2 linked regions of the Homo sapiens genome follow. The protein of the gene in region 2 interacts with the protein of the main gene of each other region in a pairwise test. Each region holds a gene or a part of one and is shown on either strand. Other genes may lie near its edges.

The links.
Region 1: the proteins of BPHL (region 2) and ESRRG interact in binary tests that used the Homo sapiens proteins (3 or more experiments, as listed by UniProt).

Annotation. Positions count from the first base shown.
Region 1 is NC_000001.11:216,670,214-216,679,443, reverse strand, and holds part of ESRRG (estrogen-related receptor gamma), read left to right. Parts: intron 1-1,952; coding exon 1,953-2,368; intron 2,369-9,230. UniProt on the Homo sapiens protein: Orphan receptor that acts as a transcription activator in the absence of bound ligand. Binds specifically to an estrogen response element and activates reporter genes controlled by estrogen response elements.
Region 2 is NC_000006.12:3,127,509-3,136,738, reverse strand, and holds part of BPHL (serine hydrolase BPHL isoform 1 precursor), read right to left. Parts: intron 7,695-9,230; coding exon 7,541-7,694; intron 1-7,540. UniProt on the Homo sapiens protein: Specific alpha-amino acid ester serine hydrolase that prefers small, hydrophobic, and aromatic side chains and does not have a stringent requirement for the leaving group other than preferring a primary alcohol.

The sequences.
Region 1 (9,230 bases), on a different chromosome or scaffold from region 2:
TAAGTGAAGTGGTGGTGTAAGTGCTCTAAATTAAAAGGAATTCACAGGGCTGCTGTAAGTCAGTGCCGACCCGCTTTCTTTCAAACGATGACTTGAGGAAAGTGCTTAGCCCAGAGTGCTAAGGAGACAAGGAGAGCGATCTATTAATTACAACGTTCATTAACAGTGACGGGTACAAGGCAGCAGATGCAGAAGAGAGAGGACGCCGTAGTTCAGGCTGGCGAGGGGGATATTTTTTTCTTTCGCTAGTTCTTGAGGAAAGGACAACACAAGTGGGTGGGCGAAAGTACGAAGATATTTTCGTGGCTTTCGCCTTCCTATTTGCTTTCTTCACATCCTGATACTGCTTGACTTCAGAAAGCTGTGCAAGATTTCTCAAAGTGAAATATCTTTGGTAAGAGGCAAATCTTGCCTCAACGCTTTGCTCCTGAGACCGCCTTCTTGGAACAGTTAAGTGAAACTTCCTGCCAGAAAAGTTCCATATTTTTCTTCATTTTGAAGTAACAGAACAATGGAGGACCTGGAGGAGGGCATGAAATTTGTGCAATGATCAAATATCATTAGATTTATAGTGAAAGAGATAATTGCATCCCTTTGGTTATCCTGTGATGAGTCCCCCAAATTCTAGTGAATGACCATTACCCAGAGGGATTCCCATAAATCAATTTTCCACTGGGAGGCAATTATCTAAGTCCCTTTCTTGACTGTCACCTCTTCTTTCTGTAGTGGGCTCTCAGAAGCTTCTTAGACATTTTGCTAAACGAGGTTTTGCACAATGGCTAAATGAAAAGAAAATAGGACCAATTATATCTTTTCATCTAATTACCTTTCCAGAAATTCGGTCACTTGTGAGAACAACAAAGAAAAAGGGATGAAGTGTTTCTTCTAGATAAGAGAAACAGTGTGTCAGATTAGATGTTTCATCATTTTTCCTTTTAGGAGGTATAATGTTAAATGGCAAAAAGAAGTGGGGGAAGGACCATCACAAATATATTTTTTAGGACAAAATATGCTACATTTCTACTTTACTGAATGTAAATATAACATCAGATTTTATAGTATCAGATAATATACATATAATATCAGATTTGTGGACTTACAGGTATACTGAAGGCTCAAATGGCTTTTACTGATTCATCTCTTAAATAATGGCAAATCACACATAAGAAACACATGCACGTATTTATTAATGAATGTTGGTGATGAGTCACTAAGTTTTGCAGGCTCTAGGAATAATCTTTAAATATTGGCTGGAATTTTATACTTGATGTCTTTCTATATTGCCAAATGGCTATGAAATAGAGCAATTTAAATAAAGAAACAAAGTGATTGAGGATATATTCCCTATGTGTTTTAGTCAGATCAATAAGACACAGTTATGCTTATGGAAGCGTGCTGACAAACAGTAATTACAGAGCTGAGGATCATCTGTTCAGTCTTGAAAATAAAAGTTTTATTCTGCTCATAATAAAATGATTGCAGCATCAGAATGAGGAAGGAAAGGTAGAATGAGGATAAATACAATTTTAGAAATGGTATAGACTTTGCAAATCACCACCTCTTCCATTGATAAATTTAGAATCTAGAGTTGAGTTAGATATTGACACTGGTTCTCCAAGAGAAAGGTAAAATAAAAGCAATCGGACTCTTTAGAGCTTTTGTTTATGGCCTGTCTGGGCCCTTTGTTGTAACCCTGTCATGCCCTTATGCTGATTACCTTCTTGTAGAACAAGAAGTATTGACTAGAGAATGAATGATGTGTAGTCCCTAGCCCTTAGGAAACTCTCTCAAAGAGCAATGTCTTTAACATATGAATTCTGTTTTTTTCCTCCTTTTACCTTTCCCTTTCCCTTTCTCTATTTTTCACCATCTCTTTTGTTTCTACCTCTTTTGGTCTCTGTGCTTGACACTCTCTCCTCTTTCTGTCTCTCTTTGTATCTCCTCAATCTCAGGCTTCTCTGCAGAATGTCAAACAAAGATCGACACATTGATTCCAGCTGTTCGTCCTTCATCAAGACGGAACCTTCCAGCCCAGCCTCCCTGACGGACAGCGTCAACCACCACAGCCCTGGTGGCTCTTCAGACGCCAGTGGGAGCTACAGTTCAACCATGAATGGCCATCAGAACGGACTTGACTCGCCACCTCTCTACCCTTCTGCTCCTATCCTGGGAGGTAGTGGGCCTGTCAGGAAACTGTATGATGACTGCTCCAGCACCATTGTTGAAGATCCCCAGACCAAGTGTGAATACATGCTCAACTCGATGCCCAAGAGACTGTGTTTAGTGTGTGGTGACATCGCTTCTGGGTACCACTATGGGGTAGCATCATGTGAAGCCTGCAAGGCATTCTTCAAGAGGACAATTCAAGGTTAGTGTCGGACCTGGGAATACTCTCCCCACTTCCAACCTCACATGATGGGTTTTTGTTTTTCCTTATTCTTATTCTCATAAGTCAAGTATCATAGTTTTAATTCTCTCTTGAGTAGAAAATGGAAATAGATTACAATTGATAGTGGAAGATTTATAGAATAAAATCCCCCCAGATATACTCCATATCTATTAATTTTCCTCTTACTGTTAAGCTTTAATGGTGCAAGGATAATAAACTTTGGGTAGAGTTTACAAGAGCATAGTTATTATTAGAGCAATGTGGGTCTATATAGCAACTGTACAAATGCACATTGGACTAACAGTGTTTTTGACCCCTTTGGATCTTCTTACAGATGCATGGAAATAATAAATACTTTAGACCAGTGATTTCCAAACTTGAGTGTGCATTAAAATCATCTGGAAATCTTGTTAAAATGCAGATTCCTGGGTCCTACCTCCAGAATTTCTGATTCATTAGATCTGGGGTGGGGGCCTGCCTGAGATTGTATATTTTTAACAAATTTTCAGGTAATGCTGATGATGCTGCCGGTCCAGGGACCAATTTTAAGAATCACTGCTCTAGACAAATTTAATTACCTACTCATCTTTCTTTTTTCCTTATGGTTGGATATACTTTTTCTAACTTTTAAATGAATTTATATTAAAAAAAACCTTCCAAATTATACCAATAAAATGGCATTGAATGATAAAATATACCTCCAACATATATAAGTGATATATACCCCAAACTTCATAGATTTCAGATTTATAAATAACATTATTTCCGCCATACAGTGTAGAAAAATAGGACTGAAATTTGTTTATGCCCTTTTAAACTGGTAATCTACAGATCTAGAATTCAGTTCATGAAAAAGCTATAGATATATATTCTGGCAAAAAAATTAGATTTCACGTTTTTAGGTCTCTTGTAATTCACTTTTGAAGAAAATAGGGGAAGAAAAAAATATATTTTGAGGATCCACAGCACACCAATGGTTCTGCTCAGTGGTTTACAAAATGTGTCTTCCTAACAACCAGTTATGGACACAAAGTCTATCTTCCCACATATCAGTGGTTCTCAAGCTTGCCAGCTCATTGGAATCAGTGGAAGACTTAAAAAAACATGCTGATGTCAGGGCTCATGTCCCCAAATTCTGAATTAATTGGTCTTGGGTACAGCCAGGGAAAGGGGGGTTTTTGAAAGCTTCCTAGGTGATGCTTAATGTAAAGGCAAAGTTAAGAAACACTGCACTGTACTGTGTTGTATTATTTGCCAACAGTTCTCAAAGTGCAGTGGCTGTACCAGCAGTACCAGCATCATCTGGGAAAATGTAAGAAATGCAAGTTCCCAGGCCCCATCCTGTATTAACTCAAACAGAATCTCTGAGGGTGGGCCTAGCAATCTGCATTTTACCAACCCTCTGGGTAATCCTGATGCTAATTCAAATTTAGACCCCCTGCTCTAGACCATGCTACTGCTGATTCACCACTGACCATAGACCATCATCATCTAATGGCCCCTTGCTGGACAGAACTGAAACTAATTTATGTGGAGCCTTCATAATTTTGTGACGTACTAGTTTTCAAAGTACAAAAGAAGTAATGTTTGTTAAGTGCTAATCCTTTTAAATATTTTCACAAAACATGATTCTGAAACCCTTTATGTGTACATAGAGCAGTCTCCCACCTTCTCCCCCTTTTTTTTTTCTTTTTGAGGCAGATTTTTACTCTTGTGGCCCAGGCTAGAGGGCAATGGCATGATCTCGGCTCACTGCAACCTACATCTCCTGGGTTCAAGTGATTCTCTTGCCTCAGCTTCCCAAGTAGCTGGGATTACAGGCATGCACCAACACGCTTCTCTAATTTTGTATTTTTAGTAGAGACAAGGTTTCACCACATTGGCCAGGCTGGTCTCGAACTCCCGACCTCACGTGATCCACCCGCCTCAGCCTCCCAAAGTGCTGGGATTACAGGCATGAGCCACCGTGCCCGGCCCACCTTCCCTTTTAAGAGCATCTGGAAATTCAACTCTTCTTCATCAGTTGCACTGAATATTTTAGTGACAATCCTTACTTGTACTGGCTCTCCCTTGCTTTTTTGTTGTCTGTTACATAACTTCCTTGATCTGTGGCTGATGAGAACACAATCAAAATGTTTACTTAGTCAGGTGCAGTGGCTCATGCCTGTAATCCCACCACTTTGGGAGGCTGAGGCTGGAGGATCCCTTAAGGCCAAAAGTTCAAGAGATTAATCTGGGCAACAAAGTGAGAACCCTGTCTCTATAAAAAATTTACAAATTAGTTGAGCATGGTGGCATGCACCTGTAGTCGTGGCTACTGGAAAGGTTGAGGCAGAAGGATTGCTTGAGCCCAGGAATTGGAGGTTGCAGTGAGCCATGATTGCACTCCAGCCTGGGGTGACAGAGCTAGACACAGTCTCAAAAAAAAAAAAAAAAAAAGTTTACCCAAAGCACAATTTCTCAAGACATCATACTCTTACATAGTAGATGAGATACTTAATCCTAATCTTTTCATAGCCTTTCATAGTTTTAAATGAAGAGCACAAAACCAAGTTAGTATGCAGTACATATGAATGTCCTAAACATCTTCATAGCTGTATCTTTATAATTTCTGGCTCATCGTTGCTATATTTATTGATATTTTCTTACAAAAATCTTTCATTTACTGGATTTTTATTTTCTTTATCCTCATCTATAAATTGAAGGCATTAACCTCAGAATACTTAAGTTTAAAATGAAATATAAAATCACATGGAAAGCGAGAAAGCTAAAAACAATGGTCTGTGCACAAGGCTTTTCATCACTTCTGAGCATTTGAGAAATCTCTTCAGTCTATTTGGTAACACTACAAAACTTGAGAATGAAAGCACACCTCAAATCTTTGGGTGTTTACCAGCCATTGTTCCACAGTGTTATAATCCTTATGGTTACAAAGTATATACAATTCAAACTGTTATTAATTTGATTTTGTTAACTCAGTTTACACAGCTCTGAATTTTAACTACACAAAGATAAGCAAATATTTTGGGATAAATTCATGAGCACTGAGTGCGCTGATATAAGCAAGAGGTTCTCAGTGTGAAAACCACTCCCATTTATTCAACGAATATTTACTGAGAACCTGTGATTCAGACAGCAGGCTGGTTGGAGTGTCCTCTTATCCACATTTTATTAAAGCTTTGTTCCCAAAGGTTGTGGATTGAGATGAATTCCTCTAACAAATGTCTCCTGCCTTGAGGAAGTAACAATTTTTAGGGTTGAGGGGATTAAACCCTCGAGTCTTCGGTATGTTTTGTAAAGATAGAATAACAGTGTGAAAAAATTTCCTAATACATGTCTCAAAACATTTTATAGGTTAGACATTAATAGCTCTGCAATAGTTATTTACTGAGCAATAATTAGAATAGAGCAATTGGAATTCTATGCATGATTATTCTTTAGGATGCTGAAATGCTACCAAAAGCTTAACAGAGCAAAGCACAGGGTGATTCTTGGCATTGATGTATGTGCTCAGTTTTACTCCGTATTGGAGAGAGCAAGTTTCAAGGATTTTGAGCAGGAGACAGAGATGTCACTGTCCAGATTAGCACTCTGGACTTGCCCACCTGGCTGTGCTTGTAGCTGGCAGCTGCGCAGCACTTGGTGAGGCTACCCTGCTAGCTACATCATCAGACATCACACTGTGGTGCTCACTTAGCCCCAAAAAGGCAGTGAGGCAAATAAAGGGATTAAATTGTGAAAGTATAATGTAATAATTAGAGCAGTAATTGTAAGGAAGATTGGAACGGCCCCTCCTTTCTGTGGCCAAATACGGTAGTGATAGCAGTTGAACTCCAAAGATGTTGAGTGTGGCCCAGACTCTTATTCCAATGCTGAAGCTGCCTTAGAGTTCATTCTCATGCCTTCAGACAGCATTGCAGCCAAACCACCCTTAACAGATCGTAGTCTCTCCCTCCCCTCCATTAAAGCTCTCCAAGGAAAAGGAAGAGATTATGTAACTCCCCTTGACAACAAGCCTTGCTAGACTAGAGCCCCAATGGACAGGCCGTTACATAAATGTGACTCCTGCCTCACCAGGGCCTGGTTCTACTCTCATTGACTTAAGGGACGTGTGCATCCATAGGCATTTTCATGTACACCATCATCTGTTAAGATCTTTCCTTTTTAATATATCTTCTTATTATTTTTGAGACAGGGTCTCACTGTGTTGCCCAGGCTGTTGTACAGTGATGTGATCTTGGCTCACTGCAGCCTCCACCTCCTGGGCTCAAGTGATCCCTTCCCCTCAGCCTCCCAAGTAGCTGGAAAACAGGCATGCACTACCATGCCTACCTAATTTTTCACTCTTTTGTAGAGACGGGATCTCCCTATGTTGCCCAGGCTGGTCTCAAACTCCTAGCCTCAAATGATCCTCCTGCCTCAGCCTCCCAAAGTGCTGGGATTACAGGCATGAGCCATCTTACTTCTTATTTTAACAATTTATTTTTAGGATTGGTTATCGAGTGTGTAATAAATATATACGTTTAAAAAGTTGGGAAAAATACTTCTTAAACTTGGCACCAAAAGAACATATATCCAGACCATATCTTGAGAAAAGTAATACAAATTGTTCTTTTCAGAGCTGAATGTGCTATTTCTGTTGTGAAAGACAATTAATCATGGATTTCAATGAAAGGTAAATAGAAAGGAATATTTTACTTGTTGACTATTTTCAAGTTATCATTGAAAAACTATTGAATTATGTCAGCATTTAGTTGGGTAGAAGCCAAAGTTTTGCTGTTTTGTTTTTGTTTTTGGCTGACCAAAATACTTTTTACAAAACTTTGACAGCTCTACCCTGTCATCCAATAGGGTTACAGTGGCAGCAGTGATTTCACGTCATTTTCTAGGCATAGTAATTTTGGGGATGTGATATTGTTATTCTTCTGATTTTTTTTCCAATTCCAATTTTGGCCTTAATTCATAAATGATTGGAGTCTGCCTTCTTTCCCTCCTTCCTTCCTTCCTTCTTTCTTTCCTTCCTTCCTTCTTTTCTTTTCTTTTTTTTTGGGAACTTCTCATTAAGAGTTTCCCCTAGACTCTTGTTAAGGAGGCAAGAGAAGGAAAACATCCTTATACCCAAGTATAAGTAATACCCAAGTATTACATATTTCATTATTTAATAGACAAAACACTAGCCTCCTGAAGTTTTTATGTCCATATAATAAAGAAAATAATTTTATAAATAGTTTTCTTTGTGTAGATAATATAGCCATTCTAACTCCTCATTATAGTGCTAGAAATAAAGTATTCTTCTTTCCCCCACATTTAAAAGGTGGGAAATTGTATATTTAAAAATATGAGATTTTAAAAAGATGTTCATTATAGCATCGGTTTTGGATTTATATAAAGCCAGGCCCAAGTCTCAGCCACTTACCAGCTGTGAGACCTTAACCCCTCTTTTCCTCTGTTTCCCAAGTGATGAGGGTTACATGAGAGAATGAATATCGAAGTACTTGACCCATAGTAAATGTACACTAAATTATTAACTTTGGTTGATATTGGGAATATGACTGGGATACCCAGAGGCTGGATGGTTCGTGTAATCTAGCACAGAGTTATCCTTGATGCTAAACTAGAAGGACAGGTATGTCACCTTCCAGAGCTCACAGCTGTCTCCACCCTTTAGCTATGATCGTAAACCCTCTCTCCCTGTAGCCATTTCTCACTGATGGTGCCTTTATATGATTGGAGGCATTTAGGTGAACTGTCTGGAAATTTGTTTAGTTATATTTAGCTTATCGTGCTCAATTAACTTTATTTCCCTGTGAATAAGAATGGGAAACTGCATACATCAAAAAACAAGCCTGAATTTTGGAACTTGCATAAAACATAAAATTCTCAGTTTAGCTTCACTTGTGAAATTTAGGCACTGAAGTAGTAGCATATCTTCCCTGTGTGAGGTGTGGGAGTGACCATTATGGAACTAAGTCCACTCTGAACATTGCAGGACCTAGGACAAGAGTACAGCAAGCACCCAAATACTGCATAGTATATGTAAATATGTTAATGTTATAAATCAAGATACCAAATCACTAAGTGAAATTTGTTCTAGTCTCTTATTTGACCAACTATACCTTCATAATAGCCTGGGAGACTGACTTTTTATTGGTCAGTCTTTGACTCCAAGGAACAATTTTCTGTCAGTGAGAGGCAGTGCAAGGAGAGCTGGTTCATAGCCTGCAGCCCATCCCCTTTCTTTCTCTCTCCTCTATCTCCCAATCTTGTACATAGTGTGGACACCCTTGCCCACATGTCTAAGGCCCAGTGACCCCTTCCAAACAGCTGTTCCTTGACCACGCCCAGGTCTAATGTGCACACCAGAAGGGCAGTTTAGTCCAGTCTAGCTTCCAGAGAACAGACCCAAGAGAGAGTCCCGCTCAGGCCCTGGCACTTCCATGGGCTTGTGGTGATCTAGCCAGGGAGTTTGAGGGTCTCAGGTACTCAGGATCAAGGTGTACGCAGGGGACGGCTCCAGCTGGGCTTTTTTCCCTTCACACTTTGAGTGGGATCTTTGTGCTACGTATACCTTCTAAAGCCCACAGCCTTCAGGCAAGGGCTTTTCTTGTCTGAGGCTAAAGTGGCATTAATGTGAGCCTAAATCTCACCTTAAACATGGGGCATTAAGATTAGTCATTTTCCTGCAAGCCATATGCTAAAGGCATGCGGGCATAGCCCTTGGATCTGATGCAATCAACTGCTTTACTACACTGAATTGTATGACTCCTTCCTGAAGCAGGCAGTGTAGTCCTAGAGGATCTTTCCTGGTGTTGCATTTCTTTTGCCATCATGTGCTGTTTCA
Region 2 (9,230 bases):
TTTCTATATTTCTTTAAATACACTGTGATAAGTAAAGATTCTAATGCTCTTGAGCATATTAAATATTGCTTCCTGAGAGCTACACGTTACACATGGAAGAAATATAACACTAATGGCATGAACTCACATGAGCAACAATCTCTACAGAGTCCCGGACAACGTCAGGCACCTGGCAGGCACTCACTGTGTGCTTAGTGAATTCAAATCACCAAATGGAGGAAAAACTGCTATTTACAATCACAACTGCCTTCTGAGGAGGGCGGATCCCCCATTACAGGACAGTGCCTGGTGCCTGCCTTTGCTTCTGCTGACTGGCTTAAATATTCAGAGGTAGGCCCCGTGTGAGCTGAAGATAAAGGCTGAAGAGGATGAACTGCTCTGCACAAGAATGAAAAGACTTGAATGAGGTACGTGGAGACAGCCTGAAGAGGTGGGGAGAAGATGTAGGAAGAAGAAAACATTTGGGGGCGGAGGGTAAGGGAGAGAGAAGCAAGCAAGACAGTGTGAAGATGGCTAGCAAAACGTCCCTGCACATGCTTCTACTTTTGGCCGTATGGCAGACCATACCCTCTGAAAGGCCTTCTTGCAGGGGAATAACTAGATCTTTCACAAAACAGAATTCTGTGGCATTGCTGAAGTTGCAGTGGTTAATGGAAACCGGGGTGTGAGTGTGTATGAGTGTGTCTGCACATGAGAAACAGAACCCTGAAAATACAGCAAAGGAAGTAAGCCAGCTCCAAAGGCAGGCCTGCTCTGGGTGGAGACGCAGTGTTCGCAGGCAGGCCGGGGCCCAACCTGAGACTCCTGGATCAAGCTGAGCTAAAAATGGCCCCAACCTGGTATGATCCTGTGGTTCCCAAGAGCAACAAATGCAAATCTTCCCGGAAGGAAAGCGCTCTCGATTTATGCTCACTGCTTTGTTTATTTTCAGATTAAGAGTGAGTAAATATTAGCTCCTAACCAAAGGTCACAAAACAAACAGGATTTTTATAAAGTTAATAAAAAAACTAGAAAATTGGAAGACAAATCTTAAGAAATTATGCAGAACACCACGCAGAGAGACACGACGATGCAGAAGAGATAAGGAAGATGGAAAGACGAGGTTTACAAAAGTCCGCTCGTCTCAGAAGAAGAGAATAAGAATGAACGAGATGCCTATTTGAAGAAATAATGGGTGGGAGAGTTTTTCAGAATGAATCAAAGAATCCATAAACAAAAACGCAATGTATTCCAAACAGGACAAGTAAAATGAAATCTGCATTTGGACAGAATATATTAAAACAGCAATATATCAAAGGTAAGGAGAAAATCTGAAAAACAGCCAGAGAGTTAAGACACATCACTCCGAAGCAGGAACCACGTAGACGGACAGGAAACTTCTCAACAGCAAGGATGGAAGGCAGAAGACTGCAGAATGGGGGAGACAATGATTTTCCACTTCCATTTCCACACTCAGCTAAACAGACTTACAGAAAAGGTGGATGAAAGAAAAGACACTTGTTGGTAAAAACTGAGTTGACCATTAACAGGCTGCCCTTAAATAACTTCTAAAAATAACTTCAGGAAGAAGAGAAGATAAATGCTTTTAGAAGGAACATTTGAGAAGAAAGAACAGGTGAGTAAACAAATGGGCAAACATGTTGGTGGATCTAAAATCAAACAAAACCAGCCAAACCAATGAGAAAATAAAACATTGTGAGGCCGGGCGGCATGGTGGCTCACACCTGTAATCCCAGCACTTCGGAAGGTTGAGGTGGGTGGATTACTTAAGTCCAGGAGTTCAAGACCAGCCTGGGCAATGTGGCGGAACCCCGTCTCTACAAAAAATACAAAAATTGGCCAGGCGCGGTGGTTCATGCCTGTAATCCCAGCACTTTGGGAGGCCGAGGCAGGCGGATCACGAGGTCAGGAGATCGAGACCATCCTGGATAACACGGTGAAACCCCGTCTCTACTAAAAATACAAAAAAATAGCCGGGCGTGGTGGCAGGCGCCTGTATTCCCAGCTACTCGGGAGGTTGAGGCAGGAGAATGGCGTGAACACAGGAGGCGGAGTTTGCAGTGAGCCGAGATCACGCCACTGCGCAGCCTGGGTGACAGAGCGAGACTCCGTCTCAAAAAAAAAAAAAAAAAAAATTAGCCAGGTGCGGTGGCACACGCCTGTAGTGCCAGCTACTTGGGAGGCTGAGGCAGAAGGATAGTTTGATGTTGAGCAAGCAGGCTGCAGTGAGCTGAGATGGTGCCACTGCACTCCAGCCTGGGCAATAGTGGAGACCCTGTCTCAAAAAAAAAAAAAAAAAAGGAAAGAAAAGAAAAAGAAAAAGGAAAGAAAAACAAAACACTGTGGCATTTCCTTACATTAAGTAGTTCTGCCCATAAAGAAAAAGGCAAAAGCCACCCACTGTGAAGAGGTGCTTGCAACACAGTTACCCTAAAAGGGGTTACTGACTAGGATTAGAGTAACACTGGGATAACATTGAAACTGTTCTGGTGCTGAGTTGGGTGGACAGCGGCGGGGTCGTTTTGTTGTTACATTTCATACTGTATACCCAAACATACTGTATTGTGTGTATCAATTATTACATAACAAAAAACTTTTCACCAATAAAAATACATGGATATAATACAGAAGAAACTCAAATGGTGGATAAACACAGATTTTCAATCTTATTAGTAATACGAAATGCAAATTAAGACCCCAATAAGATAATATCTTACACCCATTTGATTGGCTAGTGAATTAAGAAGTCTGAGAATTTCAAGTTTTTGTTGAAGAGCTAAAAGTTAAGAATCTCATCTATTGCTGGTGGAAGTGTAAATTTATTTTGCTGGAAAATAATCTGTCACTTGTAATGTAGTCTACCTGCCCACAACACTCAGCAATTTCACTCATGGACTTAGACCCTAGAGAGATACTGTTGCTCCTACACCCCAGGAGACGGGTACAAGAACCAGCCGTCCATCTGTAGCAGAGTGGCCTGTGTGCTCACACGGGCAGTGGACACGGGGTGGCGGCGGTGAGGGCTTCCTAGAAGATGGAATGCTTGGGCCATTCTGGGAGAAGAGAAGTCAGCAAACAAGTGAAGGAGTGGGAAGGGAGCGGGAAGGGCCCACACAAGGAGGCAGGAGCCCGCCACCTGCTGCAGGGACCCAGGTGGTCTCGGATGGCTGGACACTGGTGGTTGGGAGGGGAAAGTGGGGGGAGGGGACCTGGAGAGGCAGAGGCCGGGCCACTCATTCCGTGAGCAAAGTGAAGGAGCCTGAACTTTATCAGGAAAGTTGTGGGGAGTCCTGGAAGGCTTAAAGTAAGACACCATGAGATTCACATATTGCTGAATTGCTATCAGAGCATCATGGAAGGCAGACTGGTAGGAGGCAAGGACCTGGACCGGTTGGAGAGGCACAGAATCAGCCCAGACGGGACCAACGAGGCTGGCGGGAGCCTGGTGGGAGGGAGAGAGGGGTAGGGCAAGATGGGGCCACTCAGAGCCCAGCAGAAGAGAAGAGTGCAGTGAGCTGCAGGCCGCAGTGTGGGGGATGTGGTCTGGAAGGTTTCCTCACTTTTGTGAGCCCCCGTTTTTCACTTGACAAGCAGGCTGAGAATCAGAGACCTTACATGGATATCACGTTGTTAAAGACTTTAGCTCACGGCAGGCACTCAATAAATAGTAATTAAAATATTATTTTCAGGGAGAAAGAGTATTATTTATAATGACAAGAAATTTAGCAGAAGGGACAGGCCTAGAGAGAAGATCATGAATTCAGTATTAGACAGACTGAATTTAAAGTAGGTGTGAGACAACCAGATAAGAAAATTGAATAAAAAGTTGAATAAGGCAACATAGTGAGAACTCGTCTTTTTCTTTTCTTTCTGTTTTTTTCTTTTGGTTGTTGTTGTTGCTGTTGTTGGGACAGGGTCTCGCCTCTGTCACCCAAGCTACAGTGCAGTGGTGTAATCACAGATCACGGCAGCCTCAACCTCCCCGGCTCAGGTGATCCTCCACCTCAGCCTCCCAAATGGCTGGGACTACAGGCACATGCCACCACACCTGACTACGTTTTGTATTTTTTTGTAGACACGGGGTCTTGCTACGTTGCCCAGGCTGGTCTTGAACTCCTGGGCTCAAGTGATCCTCCTGCCTCAGCCTCCCAAAGTGCTGGGATTACAGGTGTGAGCCACCACACCCAGTGAGAATTTGTCTCTTAAAAAAAAACAACAGTCGAACATGTGGGGTTTGGGAGTTAGGTGGAGCAAGGAGCTGAGTGAAGCTACTCAGGTGTGAGGTGTGAGGGTAAGAGGGGAGCAGAGCACTGAGGGTGACGCCTGGAGGACCCCAACACTGTGGCCCACATGGGGGAGCAGGCACGTGTCAGCCAGGGAACAGCCTGAGAGAGGAGGGAAGTCGGGAGAACACGGTGGCAAGAACTTCCAGACAGAGAAAGCTTCAAGAAGAGGGGTGTAACCAATGGCGCACACATCATGAGCATGTTCTCAAACGCTGCAGAATGACCAAGGAGCCAAGAGGAGGTGCGTGGTGGGGGCTTGGTCTCTAGCACACTGGCGGGCCACAGCCATCTTGACACAAGTTAGGAGAGGATGGGGGATGAAAAAGAAAGAGTAGCCAGGAGGGGAAGTAGCGAGACGTCAGAGAGTAAAGAGTGCTGCGCTACTGAGAGACTCTTGCTTTCATCAAGAAAGGAAAGTCAGAGCAACTGCACACAGTGAGTTCCCACTGCGGTGACCGAGGCAAGGGAGTAAGTGCTGACAGTGCCCGGGGTTGAAGGGCCGTGACACAGGCACGTGCAAGGTGTGGCGGGGTCCAGGAGGGAGAGCACCGCCAGGTCTCAGGGCTCCGGGACGCCATCCCAGACGCGGAGGCCCAAGGAGCTGTGTCAGGGGTGAATATGCCCTGGCAGAGGATGTGGCTGAGGGGAAGGCTGGTGCAAGCTGGCACAGCAGCAGTTGCAAAGGCGAAGAGGCATGAGGGGGAAGCTTGTTCCAGGAATGGCCATTTATCCCACGTGGGAGAGGCACCGGAAGGATGAGGAGAAAGGGGAGATGGGAGAATGTCCGGGGAGGGGCTGGCAGGAGGGGCCAGCCAAACTGCACGGACTTTGCTGGTTAGTGAAGGATTTTAAGTCCTCTAGTGGAATTAAGTGATTAGATTTTTGCCTTACAAAGGAAACTCTCCTATGGAGAACAAACTACCATATGAAGCTAGCGGCCTAAACCAGGAGAATGTGGGGAAAGAAGAGAGGTGAGGATAACTGGAGGGGTATTATGTAACAACAGAAAGCATCACAGTTCAATGAACAGGGCAAGGTGGGCAAATGAAGAGGGCAGAGGAGGACTGGGCCCTCGAGGGATGCATCTGGGACTCTGCCTGGATGCCGGGTCATCTGCAGGCCATGAACTGAGATAGTGATTATGGGAAAGAACAAGTGGGCAGGGGTCAGTGAGGAGAGTTTCAGTAGAGGGGGCTAGAATGGGCCAGAGAGGGAGATGGGGCAGAATGGACTAAAGAAGGAAGGAAAGGAGGATCCCTAGAAGCAGGGAATGCAGGTGGCTCTTTCCATAAGTTTGTGGGAAAGAATAAAGAATGGGAAGATAGTAACCACAGGTAGGAGTGGCAACTTTCTGGAGGAAGAATTGTGCCCACTTTTGCAGGCTGAGAGGACTGACCCAGTGGAGAGAATTTAAGGATACAGGAGAGGGAGGAAGAACTCAAGGCAGCCTGTCCTAGAGGCCGCGGGAGGGGACAGACCCTTCACAGAGCGGAATGGCCTACTGTGCACAAGATGGATACCAGGCAGGAGCAAAATAAGGACAAGCAGGAGCACAGACAGGACTGGCAACCACATCAGACTCACCGTAAGAGCTTCATATTCATTTAAAAAACAGAAAGACTGTGAAGAACTACAATTCTACAACAGAACGCTGCCACTAAGTAGCGTACTTAAAAGTCACGTGAATTGTCGAATAGCTGAAAAAGACTAGACTTGTGATATTCTAGCGAAGAGATCTGTACACCTTTTATGTAAAGGGCCAGAGAGTAAATAAATATTTTAGGTTTTGCTGGCCAAGAAGCAAAATCAAAGACATTATGTAGATACTTACACATGAGGAGAGAAAACACCTGACCCACCTAGTCCTAAGTGTCTGGGGCAGGCCATCTGGGATCCACTAGACTCACACTTGGACAAAAAGCTAGTGGCCTGAGGAAGAGGGTCCTGGTGGGCCAGGCTGGCAGGTGGGGGTAGTAGGGTAACGCAGGTCAGTTTCACTTCTTGTCCTAGCAACCCCTAGATCCTGGTGCACCCTTCTTTCCTCCCAAGAGCCTGGTCATCTCAATGGGGCAGCTTGCTGGAGGCTAAGCAACTCCTGAGTTGCTGACTGAAATTCCATGGCTGGGTGCCTGCTCATTGCCAACAGTCACCCCTGTGTAGTGACCACCAGTGCAGGTCTGGGGCAGCAATGCTGGGTGGTAAAGGGACACCCCAGCTTGGTCTCTGTGACTCACAGCACTAGCCACCTCGATTGGTACGTGGGCTGCACAAAAGTGGGAGGCAGGCTAGGTGTAATGCACAGGCTGAAGTTCACTGGCCCCTATTCCAGTGCCTGTAAAGACCTCAGGCTGGGCGTGGGGGCTCACGCTGGTAATCCCAGCACTTTGGGAGGCCAAGGCAGGTGGATCACCTGAGGTCGGGAATTCGAAACCAGCCTGACCAACATGGAGAAACCCCGTCTTTACTAAAAAACACAAAATTAGCCAGGCATGGTGGCACATGCCTGTAATCCCAGCTACTTGGGAGGGTGAGGCAGGAGAATCGCTTGAATCCAGGAGGAAGAGGTTGTGGTGAGCTGAGATCGCACGACTGCACTCCAGCCCAGGCAACAAGAGTGAAACTCAAACTCAAAAAAAAAAAAAAAAAACCTCAAAGACAGGCTTGAAGGACAACGTTAAAGCATGCAAATAGCACAGAAATTCTTTTAATCAAAATAAAAGGTTTCATATTTGTATCCAGTGATTCTTTTCCACACTCAACATTATTTTCTTTCCTCCCCCATCTCTCTCTCACTCCTGTCACCCAGGCAAAAGTGCAGTGGCACAATCATGGCTCACTGCAGCCTCGACCTCCTGGGCTCAAGCGATCCTTCTGCCTTGAGCTCCCAAAGTGCTGGGATTACAGGCATGAGCCACTGTGCCTGGCCTCACAGTATTTTAAATGAGATTATTAATAACACTTCACACCACCCCCTCCTTCCCTGAAGTTCATTATCAGTAGTAGTAAATAGAAATAGTGATTTTACTTAGCCTTTTCCTGAGCCATGGAAGTTTCACTCCTGGAAACAGAAAGCTTTAAAACTCAGACTGGTTAAACTGCATTACTTTTCTGAGAACTCGTTATTCTTCCTACCTGAGAGTTGAGAACTAGAAGCACGAGAGATGTGTCTTGTCAACATATCCCACAATAAGAGATGAGATGCGGAGAGAGGGGAAGGATCTGCCGTCCCGGCATCTCCCCTTCGCAGAACCTACCCTCATATATCATGCTGTCTTCGTCAGTGACGTAGGCGTTGGCGCCCCAGATCACCATCTTGTGGATGTAAGATGGATATTTTGCAGCAGCAATGAGTGCGGTTATGCCCCCATCACTCCACCCCAGCAGAGAAACCTTCTTAAACTTCAGCGCCTATGATCATACGACAAAATGCACGGCACGGGTTATTGCTCCTCTCTGTTAAAAGAAACTGAATCACTAATTATCAGAATCAATACAGGTGTGAGGCTGGAGTATCAATTAGTCAGAAAAGAAAAACCCTAGAGTCCACCATTTGATGACATCATGTTTTCTCTTAATTACTTTTAGTGGAAATTGTCACAAAAACCTGAGCATACGGTATGGGTTTGAATTAGGAGGGAACTACATCTTCTGGTTGGATAAAAAGCTCAAGGAACTAGAATCAATGGAGACCAAGTACTTAAATATGACAAATACAGCATACGTGTGTATGCGTGTGCACGTGTGTGCATATGCATGCCTGAGCAAGGACCTTGAGAACAGTTCTGTAGATCAGAGAGGGGACCCTGAGCTCTGCTGGATGGAGTGAAGCAGGGTATCTGGTAAAGCAACTGTGGGAAGAACTGGCAAGAGCCAGGCTGTCAGAGAACAGCGTCATGGGGAGGTTGTGTGAGTCCGCGGGTGAATCAGAGAGGGTCTGGACATGCGTTTGGCAGGGAAAATGGACAAAGATTACATCTTAGAGAGGCCGCCAAGAAAAAAGAATGGAATGACTGGAAAATTAAAGGTAAAGAATTAATATTACTCCAAGATATTTGCTGCCCGGACCATAAAATGGTGTAACTACTGTGGCACTATCCTGCAAAATGAACATCTGGAACTTCCATCACCTAGCAAATTGTCTCCTAAATGTGTATGAAATTCTCCCTGTGTGCCAGGAGCTCAGTCCAGGATGTCCACAACAATACTGTTTATAGTGGCAAAAAAATGAAAATGCCCACGAGCAACAGAATGTTCACTGCCTGCTATTTATAACAGCAGAAAAAGGCAACTTAAAAATTAAGTTAATTATCTACTATTAGAAAACTGGTGAAATAGGCCAGGTGTGGTGGCTCATGCCTGTAATCCCAGCACTTTGGGAGGCCAAGGTGGGTGGATCATGAGGTCAGGAGATCGAGACCATCCGGACTAATGCGATGAAACCCTGTCTCTACTAAAAATACAAAAATTAGCTGGGCATAGTGGCATGTGCCTGTAATCCCAGCTACTCAGGAGGCTGAGGCAGGAGAATCGTTTGAACCCGGGAGGCAGAGGTTGCAGTGAGCCAAGATTGCGCCACCGCACTCCAGCCTGGGTGACAGAGCAACACTCTGTCTCAAAAAAAAAAAAAGAAAATTGGTGAAATAAGATACAGTACATCCATACAATGGAATAATATGTGCCTATCATACAACTAGTATAAATGCATATTTATTGACATGAAAGTTATTTCCTTGAAAAATTGTTCAACAAAAATAGTAAGTTAGAAAAACGTTAGGTGTAGCACGATGCCATCAATATGAAACTGCGTTTGTGATGTAATAAGACTGGCCAGAAAGCAGAGCCGCCAAGATTTGGTAGTGTCTCTAGAGAGCTGGACTGTGGGCTATTTCTACTTTCTTCTTTATACCTATTTGAACTCTTGGGGTTTTCTATAGCAATCACATG